Homo sapiens: one gene and its partner. The protein of the gene in region 1 binds, or shares a complex with, the protein of each later gene. Each region holds a gene or a part of one and is shown on either strand. Other genes may lie near its edges. A codon is read from its position in the direction of its gene.

The links.
Region 2: the proteins of INTS11 (region 1) and BRAT1 are in contact, whole or in part, in a cryo-EM structure (PDB 8UIB), measured with the Homo sapiens proteins. Residues at the interface, in NP_060341.2 of Homo sapiens: Leu9 (codon at 6,491), Val15, Gly16, Lys27, Met35, His36, Met37, Gly38, Phe39, Arg43, Asp47, Tyr50, Thr58, Asp59, Asp62, His70, Leu71, Asp72, His73, Asp87, Gly88, Gln97, Pro101, Ile102, Glu105, Arg108, Lys109, Val112, Asp113, Lys114; in NP_689956.2 of Homo sapiens: Asp25, Thr27, Cys28, Glu30, Lys31, Asp34, Pro117, Ser156, Ser157, Leu158, Phe159, Ser162, Lys358, Ser359, Cys366, Arg367, Arg424, Arg427, Thr465, Lys468, Lys469, Trp514, Glu515, Asp518, Ser519, Glu522, Tyr560, Ser564, Ser604, Glu605.

What each region holds. Positions count from the first base shown.
Region 1 is NC_000001.11:1,319,819-1,331,074, reverse strand, and holds the start of INTS11 (integrator complex subunit 11), read left to right. Parts: upstream 1-6,414; 5' UTR 6,415-6,466; coding exon 6,467-6,494; intron 6,495-7,787; coding exon of another isoform or gene 7,788-7,898; exon of another isoform or gene 7,899-8,183; intron 8,184-9,090; coding exon of another isoform or gene 9,091-9,167; intron 9,168-9,981; coding exon 9,982-10,079; intron 10,080-10,545; coding exon 10,546-10,619; intron 10,620-11,256. Other genes in the region: CPTP (ceramide-1-phosphate transfer protein), read right to left, coding at 3,312-3,834, 4,043-4,164.
Region 2 is NC_000007.14:2,545,149-2,555,551, reverse strand, and holds the start of BRAT1 (integrator complex assembly factor BRAT1), read left to right. Parts: upstream 1-27; 5' UTR 28-65; exon of another isoform or gene 66-511; intron 512-1,104; 5' UTR 1,105-1,120; coding exon 1,121-1,247; intron 1,248-4,586; exon of another isoform or gene 4,587-4,682; intron 4,683-6,427; exon of another isoform or gene 6,428-6,486; intron 6,487-8,073; coding exon 8,074-8,228; intron 8,229-10,403. UniProt on the Homo sapiens protein: Component of a multiprotein complex required for the assembly of the RNA endonuclease module of the integrator complex.

The DNA of each region.
Region 1 (11,256 bases):
TGCCTGTGGCTGAGCCCCTTGCCACCCCCCGATTCCTGGAGTTGCCCAGCAGGCTGTGGAGAGGAGAGGGGGCAAAGGGGCCTCCAGGGCTCTGAGGTCTCAGCTGCGTGGGAGGGATGCAGAGACACCCAGCCCTGGGGCTTTTCATAAGCACAGAAATGCCTCCTACCCAGCCCCGGGAGCTTCTGGCTCCCACTCAAGGCTGTGCTGGCCGGAGCCGGGGGCAGCAGGGATGGGCCCCCTAGGCCTGCAGACCAGTCAGGCCAGTGGGCAGCCGGCCAGCCAGGCCTCCACCCTGCAGCTGGGGAGGGCCCTGGGGTGGTGGTGCTGCCCTCCCAGTCTGCTTGGGAGCAGAGTTCCTTGAGGGTCTCAGCCCTTCTGCCAGAGTCTGACGCCTGGAAGCTGTAGGAACCGCATGGCCAGCTGTACTCACACTGCTGACCCCCGTCTGGGCCACTCCTGCGTGGCAGGCACACAGGTGGCTCCTGCTGGGGGTAGAGTTTGTTTGCCAGGGGGGCACGCAAACAAGGGAGGAAGGGCCACAGGCAAATGAGCGGCAGCTGGAGCAGCACCAGGTGTGCAGGGCCGGGACTCCTCTGCCTCTGTGTTGCTTTGGGGGTGCCCTCGGGGACACAGCAGACTCCAGGCGCAGGCCCTCCCAGGGGAACTGGGGGGCACTCAGCTTCAGCTAGGGCCTGGCAGACCTAGCAGATACCAGGAGGTGTGCCCTGGCTGGTGCTTCTTCCCCATGGTGTTGTGAGGAGGACCTGTGAGGGACACACACTACCACCGCACATGCATATGGCACATGCTGAGCACACGTGAATATGGCGCACATGCGAACCTGGCACACGAGCACAGGAATGCGGCACACACACAAACGGCACATGCGCATGGTACACGCGAATGGCACATGCACGGCACACGTGCATGGGACACGCACGGCACACGCAAGGAACACATGCATGGCATGCAAACGGCACACATGCATGCCACACGTGCACAGCATACATGCAAATGGCACACGTGTACGGTGCACACGAATGGCACATGCGCATGGTACACACAAATGGCACACGCACGGCAAGTGCATGGCACACGCGCATGGCACACACAAAACGGCACATGCAAATGGCACACACACGGCACACACAATACACACGGAAACGGCACATACACAAATGCCACACATGCATGGCACGCAAGCAAACGACGTGTGGCACACGCGCATCGCACGCAAATGGCACGTGCATGACACAAATGGCACATGCAAACAGCACACACATGGTACACGCAAAGCACATGGCACGCACATGCGCACAGCATACGCTCACAGCACACACGGCATACACAAATGGCACACATGCACGTGGCACACGTGCACGGCCAACACGCAGCACATACGTGCATGGCACATACACGAAAACAGCACACGCTCACGGCCAACACGCATGGCACATGCAACTGGCACCTGCACATTGCACAGATGGCACACATGCACATGGTACATGCAAACAGCACATGCAAACGGCACACGTGCGGCACACGCAAATAGCACACTCGCACTTGGGACACGCAAACGGCACAAGCATGGCACTTGTACAGAAGGCAACACCCGGAGGGAGCCCTGCCCTGGGGCCCACGCAGACCCAGGCAGTTCTCCCGGCCCATACTGCAGTCGGCAGCCTTTGCCGGCACCATATGCAGCTCCCACAGACCCTGAGGTGGGGGTGACATCCAGGAAGACTCTGCTGAATTGCATCCCCTTTCTGTCCAGGCCACTGTTGTGGCTGGGAGTGGCCCCCACCTCCACGCACACATCCCACGCAGGCCTCTCCTCTTTTGCATGGAGAGGCGGATGTCTGCCCTCCCAACCGTCCTCCCAACCCAGCCTCTTGGTTCTGGGTGACTCTGTCTCTCTCTTGTCTCACCTGTACAACAGGCATAGTGATGGGACCTCTCTGGGAGAATGGGCACACAGCAGCCCTGCCTCCAAGGCTGGCCTTTTCTCAGGGTGTTTGTTGAGCCCTGGGGCTAACACAGCCCCCTGAGCCTGGCAGTGGGGCCTCAGCTCCCTTGGAGTTAGGTGCACCCACCTCAGCTGTGTCCCTGGGGTGAGGGCCCTCCCCACCCTCACTGGGTGCCCCTGTGTCCCCCTGCAGGAAATCAGGCACCCAGTGCACCCCAGCGTCTCCCTCCTGGGAGGCTGTGTGATTTATTAACGTTGGAAGACATCACATAGATTGCACTCTGGAAGCTCGCATGTCTGCTGGGCCGTGGGGGCCGTCCCTCTGCCACCCCGAGGTGCTGGGGTCCACTGTGAAGAGCCAGTGGCCAGGCCCCAGGCACTGGATGGTGGCTGGGCTGGTTGTGGCTGTCTGGTAGCCTTTGGCTGGGCCACAGGGTCCAGACCCTCCTGTTCCGTGCCCCACGGGTCTCCTGAGCACTGTGGGGAGGGGGCATCAAGGGGCACGGGGGAGAAGGGACACAGCATTTCACTGGGTGTAGCAGAGTCCCAGCTCCTGGGGGCCTTGGGCTGGGCTGGGCTGTGCAGACCCACGGCCGCTGCGGGAGGCGGCCTGCTGCGTCCCTCGGGGAACTGGTGCCGTGCAGGGGCTACGGAGGAGGCTGTCCCAAGGGCGGGGACTTCCTGGGCCCTTCTGTGAGGAGCCTTGGTCTCAGCTTCCGGCTGTCCTGCCCCCAGTCTGCCTGGCACGCTGAGGGGCAAACAAGGCAGGAGAGGCGGGGAGAGCCCCACAGTGCCCAGACTGCTGTTGAGGGTTTCTGCCAGCCAGGGCATGGAGGGCACTGAGTCCCCTGGGCTCAAGGCTGCCCACCTGGGCAGACACGGGGTCCCAGGCACGGGCCTGAGATGAGGACACATCGGCTGGCAGAAAGGAGAAAGGATGGAGCCTCCACACCCCGGGACCTGTGACTTCACCCTGGTTCGCAGATGCACCCCACAGGCTAGGGGGTGGCGACCTTTCGGGCTCTTGCAGGCCCGGCCCCCACCCCTGCCTGCTCTGCTCTGCACCGCACCCTGGCGAGGCCTGGCTGCGCACGCGTGTAATAGGCCGAGGGGGAGCCGTGGCCGAGGCGTCTTGTTCCGGACCGAGAGGGTGGGCCTCTTCTGGGCTGGTCGCCACCTTCTCTGTCACAGTCTGTGGTTCCTAACCAGCTCAGCTCACAGGGGCGACAGAGGATCTCCTGTTCCCGCAGCGCCCAGAAGGCTCTGCCACGGGACTCACGGCCCTGGCCACCGCAGCCCAGATCTGCAGCAGGAAAGCCGGTGCGGCCCTGGCTTCCCGCCCCTAGGGCAGGTCCAGCAGGGAGTGCTCGGCGTAGAGCTTCTGGGAGACGTTGTAGACACGCTGGATGAAGGGGAGGGCCTCGCCTAGCATCTGCACGGCCTGCTCCGGGGGCCCCACGTTCATGGCCTCCAGGAAGACCTCGCGTGTGGGCAGCGTGCAGAAGGCCACGGTGACGGCGCGGCGCACGACCCAGGGGTGGTAGGCGGCCAGCGAGGCGTTGTAGGAGTCGGCGCAGAGCGCGGAGGTGCGTGCGTCCTCGGGGCTGGTACGCAGGCCCTCCAGGAACAGCTGCAGCCAGTGCAGGGCGCGGTGCAGGCGCAGCACCGTCCGGCAGCCAGACTCCGGGTGGTGGGAGCGGCGCTCCAGGTCCACCAGCCGGTTGCTCAGCTCGTGGGCCACCATGGCCTGCAGGCTGCGGTAGTGCTCGCTCTGCGGGCCGCCCCTGAGGCGCTCCATGATCCGCAGCTTGGAGACCACGTCCTTGGAGATGAATGAGAAGATGGTGCCCAGGCTGTTCAGAAACCTGTGGAAGGGAGCGGGGCTCGAGTCCTCGCCCAGGCCTGGGGCAGCCCGCCTGGGGTGCAGGGGACGCTGCCCAGCCTGCGGGGGCTCACACCCATCTGGAAACGGGCAGCAAAGCTGGTGGGGACAGGCAGTCGGGAGGCAGATGCCACATATGGGACTCGGGCCAGGGGAGCGCCCACCTCAGGAGGCAGCCCTGGCACACGCACCTGACCAGGCCCTTCCAGCTGGCAATGTAGGGGTCCAGCAAGACCTCTTCCTTCTCATCGAGACACTGCTTGAAACTGACCAGGACGACTTTCAGATTGAAACCTGTCTCCGAGTCATCCATTTTTTGATAGGAACGGAAATACAGTAGGGCTGGGGGGCTGTGTCGCTGGGGTCAGCTTGCTCTGTGGCTCATTTTCTGTGTGTGGAGGGGAACAAAATAGCTGCGATCCCATTGCCGCTCACTGAACACTCATGCCCCTCATGGAGCTTCCTCCCAGGAGCTGCCTGGCTCTGCTCCCAGCCAAGCCGCAGGCTCTCAGGCACACCACCCTGACCCACCCTTCATCAGGATTGCGCATTCAGGGACCTTGGCACAGCCCCTCCTGTGGATCAGGCCACTGACTCCGTGTCAGTCCCTGACCCCGAGAGTGGCCCCCTCTGGCTTTATCAGACCACTAGGCCCCGCTGTCTGCAGCAGGTGTCTCTGCTGGTGCTTTCTTGTTTTTGTTTCTCTCTCTAGATGCTGTATCTGCTTTTACCAGCTGGAGAAATACTAAGCCCCTGCCGAGAGCCAAGCACCATCCTAGCCATCTATCTGGGTGCATGGGGAGTGCGAGCAGCCATCTGGGGTGGGGTCAGATGACAACAAAGACAGGAAGTTCTGAAGTCCTAGACAAGAAAACAGACACAGCAGAAAGCAGAGACAGGTGGGGCCGGGGGTGGGGGGATGCTGCCGGGCAGGCTGCCCCATCTTCCTCACTGCTACATCCCCAAAAGCAGAAAAGAGGCTGTAGGGCTGGCACTTGCTGGATGGATGGACACGTGTTTTCACTCCTGTTGCTGAAACTCCATGTCCCACACAGATGGGTTTTACCACTCAGAAGATTGCCACGAGGCTCTTGTACTAGCCCTAGGGAGCCTTCCACGAGTGGCCCAGGCCCTGCTTTGGATTCTGCTGGCATTCACATAGTCACTCCACAGATCCACAGACATCCAGGCACCCATGCTTTGTGTGAGTGTTGCCAAGCACCCTTGCCCTGTCTCCCCGGGTGCCCCACGGGCCCGCACCTGCTCTGGGGAACCTGAGAGTCAGCTGCATTCCACCTCGACCAGGAAGAGGGCCTGGGGGTTCCTAGGCCGGTTGGTGCTGGGAGCCCTGTCCTGGCCTCCCTGGCTGCAGGGACTCCATCGGTGGGGGAGGGGGAAGGGCACCCAGCCGTGGTGAGAGCTCCTGGCCAGGAGCAGGTGGGCAGGTTGCTCAGCACCCTAGGACTGGGCCCTTCATCACTAGGGATCATGGGCTGCAAGCCCTGCCCAGCCCGTGGCCCAGGCTGCTGGAGCACTGGTGCCTGCAGGGTGCTGAAGCCTGGCGTTGCAGGCCCCACAGGTTGGGTTGCATGCTTGGCACCAGGCGGAGGCCCCAGATGTGAGCTCACCGGGCTTCAGGTGTGGGGGATGGCTGCTCCTGGGCCTCAGAAAGATGCAGTCCCATAGACTTCCAGCACGCCCCTCCCCTCCTCGGGCCTTAATTTTGTCCACTGAGAAGATGGTCTCTGAGGCTCTGGGGTTTCCTTCTTGGTCACCAGATATTCTGCGGGCCTTGCCTTCCTGCCCAGATTCGAGCCAGTGGCAAACAGAAGCTGCCAGGAGCTTCTCAGAGCTGTGGCTGGTGGCTCGGTAACAACAGGAAGGGCAGTGGCTGTGCAGGAGGCAGGCAGCTTGCCAGCCCAGGAAGGTGACCCAGGACACCTCCAGGCCTTTCCCAGGGCAGCCCAACGGCCCAAGGTCAGGGCCGGGCGCGAGGGCGGCCTGAGCACAGAGCACGGGGGCTGACAGCAGGCTGGGGGGCCAGCAGGAGACGGGGCCCCACGGCGCCCCAGGCCTTGTGGGTGGGACCAGACCCTGTCGAGCGAGCGCTACGAGTCTCACCTGGGAAGGGGGCTTCAGATGGCACCGGACTGGATGGGCACCGGTTCGGGTCCCTGCTCCACCGAGAGGCCCAGGAAGGGGCGGAGGCCCGGGGTGGTGTTGGGGAGGGGCCGACCTGAGCCACGGCTCCGTCCTGCGCGGGAGCCGGGTCCTCGGCCGCCCGCCCGCTCCGGCCCTCTAGGACGACGTCCCCTCCCGCTCCCGGCCCCTCGGCGACTTCCGGACCGTGCGGGTTGGGTTGGGCAGGTGCGGCCGCCGAGTCCGAGCCGCTCACCTAGGCCGTAGCCGCCGTGCGGGCCCCGTCCCCGCCCACCGCCCCGCCCTCGCCCCGCCCTCGCCCGCCGCCCTGATTGGTTGGATGCTGCCCAATCAGGAGGCCCGGCGCCCCGACCCGCGTTTCCGGCTAGCGCACCGGAAGTTGCAGCGAGGTGGTTGCGCCTGCGCAGTGCATCACCGCAGGCGGGCCTCGCGGGTCCGGGAGCGCGGCGGAGACGATGCCTGAGATCAGAGTCACGCCCTTGGGTGAGTGGGAGCCGCCGGGAGGGCTGTGGGGTGGGCTCCGTATGCGGCTCCGGGCGGGCTGGGCGCCCCGCTCCCTCCCGTTTCTCGTGGAGCCAGGTGCGCGCCGCGGGCGTCCTCCGGTCTCCTCCCCGCGCGGGCCCTGGTGGGAGCCGAGAGGCGGCCTAGTCCCTGCACCCCGGGCCTCCGGCAGTGACGCGAGAACGCGAGCCCCGAGGTTCAGGCGGCCGTGAGGGGACGTCGCAGATGGGGCCGCGGGGCCTTCGCGCTCGCTGTGCGCTTTCGTCGGTGCCTTGACCTCCCCGTGCCGCGCGCTGCCGCCTCCAGCCCTACCAGCCCTTCAGTCCCTTAGCCCCTCAGCCCCGCAGACCCTCAGCCCCCCAGCTCCCCAGCCTCTCAGCCTCCCAGCCCCTCAGCCCCCCAGCCCCTCAGCCCCCCAGCCCCCCAGCCCCTCAGCCCCGCAGACCCTCAGCCCCCCAGCTCCCCAGCCTCTCAGCCTCCCAGCCCCTCAGCCCCTCAGTCCCTCAGCCCCCCAGCCCCCCAGCGCTCCAGTCCCCCAGACCCTCAGCCCAGCAGACCCTCAGTCCCCCAGCCCCTCAGTCCCCCAGCCCCTCAGCCCAGCAGACCCCCAGACCCTCAGCCCCCCAGCCCCTCAGCCCCCCAGTCCCCCAGCCCCCAAGCCCCTTAACCCCGCAAGCCCCTCAGCCCCCCAGCCCCGCTTCTGCCTCCTCACGTCTTGCTTTCTGTCCACCACTCTGTGTGCTCACGCCCGAGTTACAATCAACTCTCACTTTAGCTCTTGTTCTACCTGATTTCTGCAACACTGAAAAAAATAGCAAAAAACGCAAATATGTACTCCTAAAAGTCCTGACAGTCTGGGCACTGTGGCTCACGCCTGCAATCACAGCACTTTGGAAGGCAGAGGTGGGAGGATCGCTTGAGCCCAGGAGTTCAAGACCAACCTAGCCAACATGGCAAGACCCCATCACTCCAAAAAAAAAAAATGCTAAAATTGGCAGGGCGTGGTGGTGTGTGCCTGTGGTTCAAGCTACTTGGGAGGCTGAGTTGTGAGGATTGCTTGAGCCCAGGAGGTTGAGGCTGCAGTGAGCCATGATTGTGCCACTGCACTCCAGCCTGGGTGACAGCAAAACCATGTCTCAAAAGAAAGTCAAAGTCGTAACAGTATAGAACGATGTGAAGAAGGAAAAAATTAGTCAAAATCCAGGGTCTCAGAAACAGCTGGAGGGACATGGTGTTGGTGGCCAGTCATCCTGATGTCCTTAGCGTTTTCCACAGGTGCCTGCCCTGTGCTGTCCTGGAACCTGGTCCTTCCACCGGGCAGGGGGTCGAGGGCACCTTCCAGCACAGACACCAGGACGGGATTCCATGTCCTCCCCCATGGCGTGAGCGCTTCCTCGGAGGGTGCCCCCCGCCCCGGTGTGGACACTGTGCTGTGAACACCCCTGGCCTGTGCACACCCCATGGCATTTTGCAGCTGTTTGCATGGGCCCCACTGCCCTCCCCTGCTCTCTGGGTCCTCCGTGGGGTCCTCCCAGCCTGCCCCTTTCCCATTTGGCCTCTTGGCTGCCTGTTCTGCCCACTCTCTGGACATCTGATCTTTCTGATCTTTCATGTGGCTTCAATTACCCGCAATCTGTACCTGGGTATATTCTCAAGGTCACCTCAGCCAAGGTATCATCAAAGCCGAAGTCCTGTTTCACCGCTTCCCTGCACCAGGGACTGCCTCGGGCTCCGTGTCCGCGCTCACTGGACCACTGCTGTGTCCTTGGGGTCACTCCCACGCCTTGGCCTGTGTGTGGCTACCCCCCCCGCCGCCGGTCCCCCTACCCACCCTGCCCATCCCTCCCCACCGCCGGTCCCCCCACCCACCCTGCCCGTCCCTCCCCCTGCTGGTCCCTTCCCTCCCCCCTGCCTGTCCCTCCCTGCTGCCTGTCCTCCCTCCGCCCGCCCCGCTTCTTCTCCTCCCCTGGACCATCCCTTCCCCACCCCGTCCCTCCCCCTCCCCCACCCTACCCCTCCCCTCCCCTGCTCAAAAGTTGGCTTCTCGGAGCAGTCTCCTGTCATGGTTCTGGAAGTTTTGAGGCTTCCTCATTCTCTCACCTTGCTCTTTTCTGTCATAGTAACCTTCGTCTGGCGTGCTTTGGGTGTCTTGTTTGTCTGCCGTCTGTCTCCTTGCTGACAGGGATATCTCCTCCTGTCTTCTGAGCCCTGTCCCCTCGTGTATCTCCAGGCTCTATTCCCGCACCTTTCCACTTTCCTTCCTGGGATCACTGTGGGTCCTGTCGGGAGGCGGGACTGCCAGTACTTCAGGACTGGGCTTTGGAATTCAGAAAACCAGCCCGGGCCCCATGCCTCGGGGCCGTGTGCCACAAGTGCCTCTGTGGCCTTAGGTCCCTGGGCATGAAGAGGGGCGGCCCTCCCTTCCCACAGGTGCCAGAGGGCCTCTGTGAGCCTGGCGTGGCTTGGGGTAGGAGATGCAGAGGGAGGAGACAGCTGAGACCCTGCTCTCAGAGAGCTCACACCCAGCGGGGGCAGGAACAGGCCTGGAAGAGAACCTGAGATCCCCTCTCTGTGGCAGGCAGCCCCTCGGCTGTGGCCCCGTCATCCTGATGTGTGGTGCTGGCTTTGGACACTTCGAGTGGCTGGCAGGGGGAGGTGGGTGGGATTCAAGGGGAAAACTGTTCACTGCCATCAGACTCCTGCCCAGGCACAGTCTGTGCAGGGGCCGTGACCCTTTCCTCTCGGGCCCCCAGGCCACATGAGGGGGCTGAGTGTGCCTTGGCTGGCCAAGGCCTCTGGCTGGAGCAGCTGGGCAGGGCTGCTTGGCTGTCAGGAGTGTGGGAGGGCTGCAGATGAGGGTCTGTGTTGGGGGCTGCATGGTGTGCAGTGGTGTGAGGCTCGTGTTGCCACGCTGGCCACTGCTGGACCACTGGCACCGTGTTCGCTATGGCATGGCTGAGGCTGTGTGGCGCCCCTCCACAGCCGCACCACCAGAGAACACCCAGTGCCAGCACTTAGTCACTTACTGCCTTGCCTGCCTGGGGAAAGATCCTGGAGAAGGTGGCCTCATTGGTTTGCAGCTCTGCTGGGGGTCCAGCCACAGCCCAGGAGTGACTCTGACCGAGGTGTTGGCCCCACAGACCAGCCGTTGTCTCTGTTGGAGGCTGAGGGCCACAGCACAGTGCCCACTACTTAGCCAGCAGGCCGTGGCCACCTTAAGAGGCCAGGGGAAGCTGGCGGGGGAGGGCGTGTGGGCTGCCAGCCTCCACCCTGGACATGATGGTGTGGGGCATGGTCCCCTGTGTCCCCCTTCCTGTGAGTAGGGGTGGCCCTGCTTCTTGGCCCATGTGTCTGTCCACACAGCAGACTTGGTCCGGTTTCCTCAGTGCACTGGGGTCCTGCAGAGCTTGGGGAGGCAGCACAGGGGGCGGGGGGCGCAGCAGTGACTCATCTGCCCTCCCTCGAGTAGGGGCCGGCCAGGACGTGGGCCGAAGCTGCATCCTGGTCTCCATTGCGGGCAAGAATGTCATGCTGGACTGTGGAATGCACATGGGCTTCAATGACGACGTGAGTCCCTTGGGCAGGAGGCCCAGAGGCTGGGAGAGCCGGCCATCCACAGCTGGACCCTGGGCCTCAGAGCCGGGACAGTGGGGTGGTGGGCAGCAGTGGTTGTGCTTGGATGGCTGCACCCTGTGGGGAGCAGGGATGGGTGGGCCTGGCCGAGGTGAGCCCCTGCATGGTGGGGTCCCCCTGTGCTGGCGCTGAGCCCCAGCCCCGGGGTCCTGTAGGCTGGACTCCGTGAGACCCTGGGCTCAGCTTCCAGCTCACATCTGTCAGTGAGGTTGGGGGTAACCTCGGCCCCTCCGGATGCTGTGAGCAGCCAGGGGTCCTGGTGCCACCTGCGGGATGGGAGTGCCCAGCCTGAGTCTGCACATAGAACCCCCCTTCCTGGGGGCCCCTCCCTGGGGCATGGGTGGCCCCAGATGCTGCCTGGAGACCACTGTGCAACCTGAAACCCCCACATCCTTCCTAGCGACGCTTCCCTGACTTCTCCTACATCACCCAGAACGGCCGCCTAACAGACTTCCTGGACTGTGTGATCATTAGGTGGGTTCCTGTTGGGGGCCTTGAGGGTCCCATGTCTGTGCCTGTGGGGCTTGGGCCACCTTGCTTGGTCTCGGCAGCGTTTGGCAAGGGGCCTGTGCCATCCTTGATCCTCAGGGGGCTTCTAGGCCCCAGGATCTGCTCCCTGCCTGCCTTACTGGTCACACACATGGCCTGGTCTCTGTCTGTTCTTCCGGCCCTGCCCTCTGAACCCTACTTTCTGAACCCGGCCCTCCAGGCTTCACCCTCTCTGATGCCTTCACTGTCTCAGGATCTTTAAACCCCACTGTCTTGTTGGCGATTCCAGAGTCCCGAGTCTGCCCTGACCCCAGCCTTTAGGGTTCAGCAGCTCATGACCCGCTGGTCTGGGTGGCCTCGTCTGGACGGCCACAGCACTCCTGCTGGCCCCCTGCCCTTCCCTGCCCTGTCCTCCCCAGCAGCCAGGCCCGTGAAGCCTGGAGAAGCCCCTTCTCCTCTCCGGAGGCAGTGTCCTCAGCTGCCCCTGAGCCCCTCGTGGTTGTGGTTTCTTCTCAGACACGGTGGGGTCCCCAGTGCCTTCCTGGGGCTTGCCAGGCGCTGCCCTTGCCCTCAGGTCTGTGCCACCTTCACCTGCAGCTCCACTCAGCCTGTCCTGACTGCC
Region 2 (10,403 bases), on another chromosome or scaffold:
GGTGGCACTGTCCGGAGGCGGAGCCTTGGGCGAGGGGTGGTTGCGGCGGAGGACGCAACCGAGCGGTGAGGCGCGTGGGCCTTCGGGGGTCGAGGTCGTGGTAGTGGGGCGCGGGGAGGCCAAGACCCGGCCGAGGGGGGCGGGCGGGCCAGGGAGCAGCCCAGCCCGGGGCGTGCGCGACCTGGGCTCGCTTCCCAGCCCGACTGTGGCCGCCTGCTCTGGCGCCCCTTCTGGACTCTCGGGCCTGGCGCTCGCGGCCAAAACTGACTTCAAAGTGTGGGGAGGGTTCCTCTTCCCGGGACGCAGCCTTCCCGGGCATTGGCAGACGGTGCCCCGGTTAGACAGAGCCGCTGACCACCCCGCCCACCCCCGAGGCTGGACGCACGGATGCACACCTGGTCCTGGGAGAGACAGGCGCCCCTTCCTTTCCGCACCCCGCCGCCCCCCTCTCCCCCCCGCCGGCTTCAGATGCAGCCACCACTAATCCTGGGAGGGACAGACACACGGACAGGTGCCCCTTCCCCTCCTCACCCTCCTACTGGCTGCAGAACAGCAAATGCAGCCACCACTGACCCTGAGAGGGACAGACACACGGACAGGCGCCCCTTCCCCTCCGCACCCCCCTGCTGGCTTCAGGACGTCAAATGCAGCCACCACTTGACGCTGGGAGGGACAGAAACTTTCCAGCCCAGGCTGGCCCTGGGGCATGGGTAGACATCCCCTTGCACACATGGCTGACCCCGGAACTCAAAGATGCCCCTGACTCTGGCCCACCTGCAGCCTGGGCCAGCACCACGCTGTTGCCCCGACTGCACCAAAGACCAAGGGTGACAGACTTTGAGTTCCGGAGGCCTTGTGGTTTCAGCTAGACCCTCATCTGCCCCTTTCAGCCCCGCCACCAGCGCTCAGGGCCCCACCTAGACCAAAGCTTTGCATCCATCCCTGCAGTACAGACCTCTGGTCTGGGGATCATGGTTCTCCTGGTCTGAGATGAAAGTTCTGGGGCCCCTTCCCAGGCCTGAGCAGGCATGGTGGGCTGCTGTGACTAGAGCGAGCTGGGTCTGGAGTGGGCATTGAGGTTTGGCTCTCACATTGCCTTTGCAGGGCCTGCGGCCTCACCATGGACCCAGAATGCGCCCAGCTGCTCCCGGCTCTCTGTGCTGTTCTGGTAGATCCCAGGCAGCCGGTGGCAGATGACACCTGTTTGGAGAAGCTCCTGGACTGGTTTAAAACGGTCACTGAAGGAGGTAAGGAGGTGGTGCTGCTGTTTACTGCCTATCCAGAGACCAGACGCAGAGGCTGGGACAGGGAGCAGGGGCCAGATGGGGACTCCCCTGTCCTGGAGGAAGGGCAGAAACTGCCAATCAGATGTCTTTCCTTCACTTCCTAAGGATTATCTGTGGCAGACTGAGGGCAAGTTAAGATGAAGCCCGAGAGAATGATCTGGAGAGTTAGAGCCTGAAATTCAGCCAGTTGAGCCACGATCAGGGCACCCCAAGGTTCAGTTCTACAGAAGGCGTGAACAAACTTGTTTTATTGTTGTTCTCGTTGTATTTAGTGTGTTTAAGACATCAGATTTGTTTTCTTTCTGATTATGAAAGTAGGGGCCGGATGCAGTGGCTCATACCTGTAATCCCAGCACTTTGGGAGGCTGAGGCGAGCGGATTGCTTAAGTCCAGGAGTTCAAGACCAGCCTGGTCCAACATAGCGAGACGTCATCTCTAAAAAAAAAAAAAACAAAAATTAGCTGTGCCTGGTGGCGCACCTGTAGTCCCAGCTACTCTGGAGGCTGAGATGGGAGGATCCTTTGAGTCCGGGAGGTAGAGGTTGCAGTGAGCTATGATTGTGCCACTGCACCCTGACCTGGGTGATAGAGTGAGACCCTGTCTCAAAAAAAAAAAACAAAGTAATACATGTTCTTTAAAACATGAACAAAAGAGTAAAGAGGAAAATTAAACCATCAACGTTTTAATTTACTCCCAGCCTTTTCATAACACATAAAGCTGTATTTTTCTGGGGAAAAAAAAATGAGGTCATACTGTAAACACAATTTTGGTGTCTTGCTTTCTCTCTTGCTATCATAGTGAGTGTTTTCTCCACATAATATGTTAATGTTATTGACTACATGTTATTTGCTGTAGGAATAGACCATAATTAATTGAATCACTCCACTGTCAGATGTTTATATTTCTCATTTTTCATCATTTTAAGTAGTGTCATAGGTCAGGCGCGGTGACTCATGCTTGTAATCCCATCACTTTGGGAGGCCAAGGCGGGTAGGTCACTTGAAGTCAGGAGTTCGAAACCAGCCTGGCCAACATGGTGAGACCTCGTCTCTACTAAAAATAAAAAAATTAGCCGGGCATGGTGGCATGCGCCGTAATCCCAGCTACTTGGGAGACTGAGGGGGAGGATCGCTTGAACCCAGGAAGCGGAGGTTGCAGTGAGCCCAGATCGTGCCACTGCACTCCAGCGACAGAATGGACTCTGTCTCAAAAAAATAGTGTCAGTCGAGCGCGGTGGCTCAAGCCTGTAATCCCAGCACTTTGGGAGACCGAGGCAGGCAGATCACGAGGTCTGGAGATCAAGACCCTCCTGGCTAACATGGTGAAACCCCGTCTCTACTAAAAATACAAAAAAAAAAAAAATAGCCAGACGTGGTGGTGGGCGCCTGTAGTCCCAGTTACTTGGGAGGCTGGGCAGGAGAATGGCGTGAACACAGGAGGCAGAGCTTGCAGTGAGCCGAGATCACGCCACTGCACTGCAGCCTGGGCGACAGAGCGAGATTCCGTCTCAAAAAAAAAAAAATAGTGTCATAATGGCTTTCCTTTTACATAAATATTCTCGCATGTAAATGTTTATTCTCATGGTTGATAATTGCATTGGGATAGACTGCATGTTGTTAATTTCTGCTATTCTTTACTTCCTTTTTTTGGTTTACCGTGTTCTTTTATTCTTTTTATTTTTAAATTATATTGTATTTTTTTTTTTAAGGATGGGGTCTCACCGTATTGCCCAAGCTGTTTTCGATCTCCTGGGCTCAGGCAGTCACCTGCCTCTGCTTCCCAAAGTGCCTTTTACCCTCTTTGAGCTAAATATCTAGGTCTTCCTTGTTTTCTAATATATATATTTAAGGCCAGGCACGGTGGTTCATGCCTATAATCCCAGCACTTTGGGAGGCTGAGGCAGGCAGATCACTTGAGGTCAGGAGTTGGAGACCAGCCTGGCTAACATGGTGAAACCCCGTCTCTACTAAAAATACAAGAATTAGCCTGACATGGTGGTCCATGCCTGTAATCCCAGCTACTCGGGAGGCTGAAGCAGGAGAATCACTTGAACCTGGGAGGCAGAGGTTGCAGTGAGCCGAGATAACGCCATTGCACTCCAGCCAGGGCAATGGAGTGAGACTCTTGTCTCAAAAAAAAAAAAAAAAAAAAAAAAAAAATATATATATATATATATATATATATTTAAGACTATGCATTTCTCTAAAAGTATGACTTTAGCTACATCTTACACGTTTTACATTGCAGTACTTTGGTTTTAATTTAGTTCTGAGTATTTTATGCTTTTCATTATAATTTTTTTTTCACCCACAAGTTACTTAAAAGAGTATCCTTTAGTTTCAAAATATGGATTTTTCCAGTCTTTTTATTATTGATTTTTAATTTACTTTGTGGAGGTTAGAAAACATAACATATGTTTTGAATCTTTATAGCTGTTGAGACTTTTATTGAGACATAGGACCCAGGCGAGTTTTCTCAATGTTCTAGAGATTTCACTATATGATTTTGATGTTTTGGTATTTGAAGGTCTTCAACTGTGGCCTAGTTTGTAGTAGTCAGTTTTTCTTTTTCTTTTTTTTTTTTTTTGAGCCAGGGTTTTTGCGCGTCACCCAGGATGGAGTGCAATGGCGTGAACACGGCTCACTGCAGCCTTGACCTCCTGGGCAGTCCGCCTGCCTCATTCTCTTGAGTTCCTGGGATCAAGGTGTGTACCAGGCCCAGCTATTTTTTTTTTTCCCATAGAGATGAGGTCTCACCATCTTGTCCAGGCCAGCTTGGAACTCCTGGGCTCAAGCAGTCTTCCCGCCTGGGCTTCCCAAAGTGCTGGGATTACAGGAGCGAGCCACCATGCCTGGCCTGTATTTAAATTTTAAGAAGTATTTTTCAGTAGCTTTATTGAGATATAATTTGCATACCATGCCATTCTCCCATTTAAGGTGTACCAGATCCTTTTACAGTTTGTAAGCATGAGATATATATATATCTATATATAGATATATATATAGATATAGATTTTTTTTTTTTTGAGACCAAGTCTTGCTCTGTTGCCCAGGCTGGGGTGCAATGGCACAATCTTGGCTCACTGCAACCTCCGCCTCCTGGGTTTCAAACGATTCTCCTGCCTCAGCCTCCTGAGTACCTGCGATTAAAGGTGCATGCCACCATGCCCGGCCAATTTTTGTATTTTTAGTAGAGGTGGGATTTCATCATGTTGGCCAGGCTGGTCTCGAACTCCTGACCTCAGGTGATCCCTCCACCTTGGCCTCCCAAAGTGCTGGGGTTACAGTGGAGAGCCACTGCACCCAACCTAAGCATGATAATTGAGTGTTCAGGCGCATGTGTGAGATGTGGCACCATGGAACCCTGGTATGATGTCGGTACGTGACCCGTCTGACATGAGAAATGGACAAAATAAATAAATAAATGGTACCAATTCAACAGTTCTTAGTAAATTTACAGGGCTCTGAAATCATCAGCACAATCTAATTTTGTTCCCCCTAAAGAAACCGAGTCTGGGTTCACAGTGAGTCCCTGTTTCCTCCTCCCTCCCAGCCTCTGTCATTTCTCCTGCATTGTACTTGATGGAAAGAGTGTAGTTTCCACACTCGTTCATTAGTTCAGACCTGCTATGTTCTTGCTAATTTGTTTGCTTGTTTCTGAGAGGTGTGTAAAAAGCTTACACCAAGATCATGGATTCATGATTTTTCTTTGAGATGCATCCTTTTTTTTTTTTTCGCTTTACATATTATTTTTTTCTTTTTCTTTTCTTTCTTTTTTTTTTTTTGTTTTTTTTTTTTTGAGATGGAGTCTTGCTCTATTGCCCAGGCTGGAGTGCAGTGGCATGATCTCGGTTCACTGCAGCCTCGACTTCTTGGGCTCAGATGATTCTCTCACCTCAGCCTCCCTAATAGCTGGGACCACAGGAGCCCGCCACCACGCCCGGCTAAGTTTTTGTATTTTTTGTAGTGACGGGGTTTCACTATGTAGCCCAGGCTGGTCTCAAACTCCTGGGCTCAAGCAGTCTGCCCGCCTTGGCCTCTCAAATCGCTGCAATTACAGGTGTGAGGCACTGTGCCTGGCATTTTTTTTTTCTTTTTTTTTTGGAGACAGGGTCTCACTCTGTCACTCAGGCTAGAGTGCAGTGGTGTGATCACGGCTCACTGTAGCCTCAACTTCCTGGGCTCAAGTGATCCTCCCACCCCAGCCTCCTGGATGGCTGGGACTACAGGGACACACCACCACACCCAGCTAATTTTTTGTATTTTTTTGCGGAGACGGGGTTTCACCACGTTGCCCAGGCTGCTTTACACGTTTTGAAGTGAGGTTAGGTATACATAGATGTAGGAATGTTGTGTCTTTCTGGAATTTATCTCCGTGATCAGTTAACTTACTTCTGCATGAATACTGCTTTTTGCTTTACAGCCCATTTTGTTTGCTATTTCTGTTGCTACATCAGCTTCTTTAAAGTTAGAATTTGCCTACTGTGTCTTTTCTCTCCTGCTCCCAGCCTTTCCTGTCGTTGCATTTTATTGCTTTTAGAAACACCACATTGCTTGTTTTTAGTGTTTAATTTAATCTCAGCAACTCTTTCTTTTAACAGATAAGTTTGATCTCTTTAATTTGTTGAGGCGACTGTTAGATTTGAATTCTTTTGTATTTTTTAATTTCCTGTGCCTTACCTTTGTGCCTTTATCCTCCTTTTCTGCCCTCCATCAGATTGATAAAGCTTTTTTTTTTCTTTTAAATCTTTCCTCTTCTGGTTTTGAAGTTATACATTCTATTTATGTTCTTCTTTTTAGACAAGTTCTTGTGCTGTTGTCCAGGACAGTGGTGTAATCACGGCTCACTGCAGCCTTGACCTCCTGGGCTCAGGTGATCTTCCCATCTCAGCTTCCAGTGTAGCTGGGACTATAGATGCGCGCCACCATGCCCAGCGAATTTTTATAGAGAGGGGATCTTCCTGTGTTGCCCAAGCTGGTCTTAAAACTCCTGGGCTCAGGCAATCTGCCCACCTCGGCCTCTCAAGATGCTGGGACCACAGGCTTATTTGTGTTCTTCAGTGGCTACCCTTATATTTTTAACATGAGAACCGGATTTTTTAAAAAGTCTGAAGTTAATTAGACTTTCCATTCTCTATCCAGGCAACCGAAGGACCTCAGAGCACTTGAACTTCAGGCCATCACAACCTTCTATTATTGTCGTTAGTATTTTAATTCTGTTTTGTTTCAAAACCCTTCAACAATGATTTTTTAGATTTTGAACTCAGTGGCATTGTTTTTTGTTTGTTTGTTTGTTTGTTTTTGAGACAGAGTCTTGCCCTGTCACCAGGCTGGAGTGCAGTGGTGCGATCTCGGCTCACCGCAACCTCCACCTCCCGAGTTCAAGCAGTTCTCCTGCCTCAGCCTCCCAAATAGCTGGGACCACAGGCGCCCGCCACCATGCCTGGCTAATTTTTTATATTTTAGTAGAGACAGGGTTTCATTCACCATGTTTGCCAGGATGGTCTCAATCTCCTGACCTCGTGATCTGCCTGCCTTGGCCTTCAAAAGTGCTGGGATTACAGGCGTGAGCCACCACGCCCCGCCTTTTTTTTTTTTAGAGAGACAGGGTCTCCCTCTGTCGCCCAGGCTGGAGTACAGTGGTGCAGTGATAGCTTGCTGCAGCCTCGAACTCCTGGGCTCAAGCAATCCTCCCGTCTCAGCCTCCTGAGTAGCTGGGACTGCAGATGTGTGCCACCATGCCGGGCTAATTTTTTTTTATTTTTTGTAGAGACAGGGTCTTGCTATGTTGTTCTCCTGCCTTGGCCTCCCAAAGTGCTGGGACTACAGGTATGAGCACCTCACCCAGCCTGCAGTGCTGATTCAGGTGGACATAGTGCTTTTTGGGTCCTGGCCTGGTTCTCCTCCTCTGCATGCTCCTCACTCTCCTTACTGAACCACATTCTTTCCACAGGGGCTTCTCACTGGGAAACTCTCCCAACCTTTGCCTCAAAATGTCTTTTTCCCCCACTGGTGCTTTTGAGCGATAGCATAGCTGGTTATAGAAATACAGGATGCCAGTTCTGGAGAGGAATGTTTGTTCCATTGTACCTGCTTGCATGGAGCACTGTCTAAGGAAAAGTACCCATTTGGAAGGTGAAAATGCTCTTCCACTTTTTTTTTTTTTTTTTTTTGGAATGGAGTCTCGCTCTGTCGCCCAGGGCTGGAGTGTGCCGTGTGCAATGACGTGGTCTTGGCTCACTGCAGCCTCTGCCTCCCAGGTTCAAGCGATTCTCCTGCCTCAGCCTTCCAATTAGCTGGGACTACAGGCATGAGCCACCACACCTGGCTAATTTTTTGTATTTTTAGTAGAGATGGGACTTCGCCATGTTGGCCAGGCTGGTCTCGAACTCCTGAGCTCAAGTGACCACCCGCCTTGGCCTCCTAACGTGTTGGGATTACAGGCGTGAGCCACCACGCCCAGCCTGGTCTTTCACTTTAATTTGCATTTCTTTTTCACTATCAGTGAGACAGAACATTTTTTCAGCATTTTTGGCCATTCACCTGTTGTGAAAGGTGACAGTGTTCCGCCTTTCACCTGTTGTTAAGGTGTTGGCTTTCTAGCCCTTACTGAATTAAAATTATGAGTCATTTGCCGTATTTGTTGCAGATATTTTTTTCCCAGTTGGATCCCTAAATCTAACACCCTGCAAGAAAAGGGTCTGGGAATTGCTAGGAGAAGAGCGGTCATCCAGGGGGACACCTGGTGCCGTACCCCTGGTGACCCCTGGGCTGGGCCATCCCCACAGAGTCCAGTGTCGTGCTGCTGCAGGAGCACCCCTGCCTGGTGGAGCTGCTGTCCCATGTGCTGAAAGTCCAGGACCTGAGTTCTGGGGTCCTCTCCTTCTCACTGCGCCTGGCAGGAACCTTCGCAGCCCAGGAAAACTGCTTCCAGTATCTTCAGGTGAGCCTGGGGCCTCCCACCTGAGTGTCCCGTGGAGAGGTGGGCAGGCTTTTCCTCCCGCAGCCAGGTGGGGCATTTGTAGCCATCACCATCCCAAGTCCCAGCGGCCTGCCCCGACCCTGTGTCCTCACTAGAACTGCATGTTTTTTACCCCCGACTGTAGCCCCCTTTGAAAAATTCGCCCGGAGTGATGCTGGGGCTAAGGAGTTGAGGTTTTTTGGAATAAGATGACTGGCACGGGCTCCCAGCTCTGACCAGCTGTCTGAGCTTGCCCACGGCCGCAAGCCTCCATCTCTTCCTGGGACGGAGACAGGAGTCGCAGCTGCGCCGTGGCCTCCGTCTCTTCCTGGGACGGAGACAGGAGTCGTAGCTGCCCCGTGGCCCCCGTCTCTTCCTGGGACGGAGACAGGAGTCGTAGCTGCGCCGTGGGGTTGTCGTGAGGACCAAATGAGACCGCACATCCTGCACCTCCAGCGACCCAGCCTACAAATGAATGAATAACTAATGAGAATGTGAATGACTAATGAGAATGTCTTTTTTTTAAAAAATTAATTTTATTTATTTTTATTTTATTTTATTATTATTTTTCGAGACAGAGTCTTGCTCTGTCACCCAGGCTGGAGTGCAATGGTTCGAACTCAGCTAACTGCAGTCTCCACCTCCCAGGTTCAAGCGATTCTCCTGCCTCAGCCTCCCGAGTATCTGGGACTACAGGCACCTGCCACCACGCCCAGCTAATTTTTGTAGTTTTAGTAGAGACAGGATTTCACCATTTTGGCCAGGCTGATCACGAACTCCTTGACCTCAAGTGATCCGTCTGCCTCGGCCTCCCAAAATGCTAGGATTACAGGCGTGAGCCACCATACCCGGCCTTTTTTTGTTTTGTTTTTTAGAGACAGAGTCCTGCTCTGTCGTCCAGGCTGGAGTGCAGTGGCAGCTCACTGCAGCCTTGACCTCCTGGGCTCAAGTGACCCTCCCCATTCAGCTTCCCGAGTAGCTGGGTCCACAGGTGCATGAACCACACCTGGCTAACTTTGTTATCTTTGGTAGAGATGGGGTCTCACTATGTTGCCCAGGCTGGTCTCAAACTCCTGGTCTCAAGCGATCATCCTGCCTCGGCCTCCCAAAGTGTTGGGATACAGTCGTGAGCCACTGCTCCCAGCCAAGAATTTCTACATAGCAAGGCATGAGAGCTCGAGAGCCTCCCAGAGCTGTGTCTTCCAGCTTCAAGTGCCTCAGACAGGCACCGCTGAGTCTGTCGGGATGCGTGGTGTGAGCTTCAGGGCCCTTGCCCGTCTACCACGACGGCTTCTCTTGGTGCCTCACAGGCCCTCGCCAGGTTGTGCGAAGGCACATCCAGTACCGTTAGCTTGCCGTTCACGATGCCCCCCAGTTAAGCAGCTGCAGGCTCCCTAGCAGCCCACCCAGGCACCATCTTGCTGCAGGACAGACTTTCCAAGGTGTCCTAGGGTGCTGCCGTACAGTGAATCCGGGGGCCCTTGTCTGTCAGCAGCTGGTATGAAAGTACCCTCCAGGCTGGGCACGGTGGCTCATGCCTATAATCCCAGCACTTTGGGAGGCTGAGGCAGGCGGATCACCTGAGGTCAGGAGTTCGAGACCAGGCTAACCAACATGGTAAAGCCCTGTCTCTACTAAAAATGAAAAAATTAGCTGGGTGTGGTGGTGGGCACCTGTAATGCCAGCTACTCAGGAGGCTGAGACAGGAAAATAGCTTGAGCCCAGGAGGCAGAGGTTGCAGTGAGCCGAGATGTGCCACTGCACTCCAGCCTAGGCAACAGAGTGGGACTGTCTCAAAAAAAAAAAAAAGAAGAAGAAAGTGTCCTCCAGAAGTATCTCCACCAGCCCTGGAAAACTGAAAACCCATCTCTGCTTTGCTCCACATCCCTGGAAACCTACCAGGTCCCCTCACCTCTTTTTTTTTTTTTTTTTTTTTTTTTTTGAGATGGAGTCTCGCTGTGTCACCCAGGCTGGTGTGCAGTGGTGCGATCTTGGCTCACTGCAACCTTCGCCTCCCGGGTTCAAGCAATTCTCCTGCCTCAGCCTTCTTAGTAGCTGGGATTACAGGTGCATGCCACCACACCCAGCAAATTTTTGTATTTCTAGTAGAGATGGGGTTTCACCATGTTGGTCAGGCTGGTCTCGAACTCCTGACCT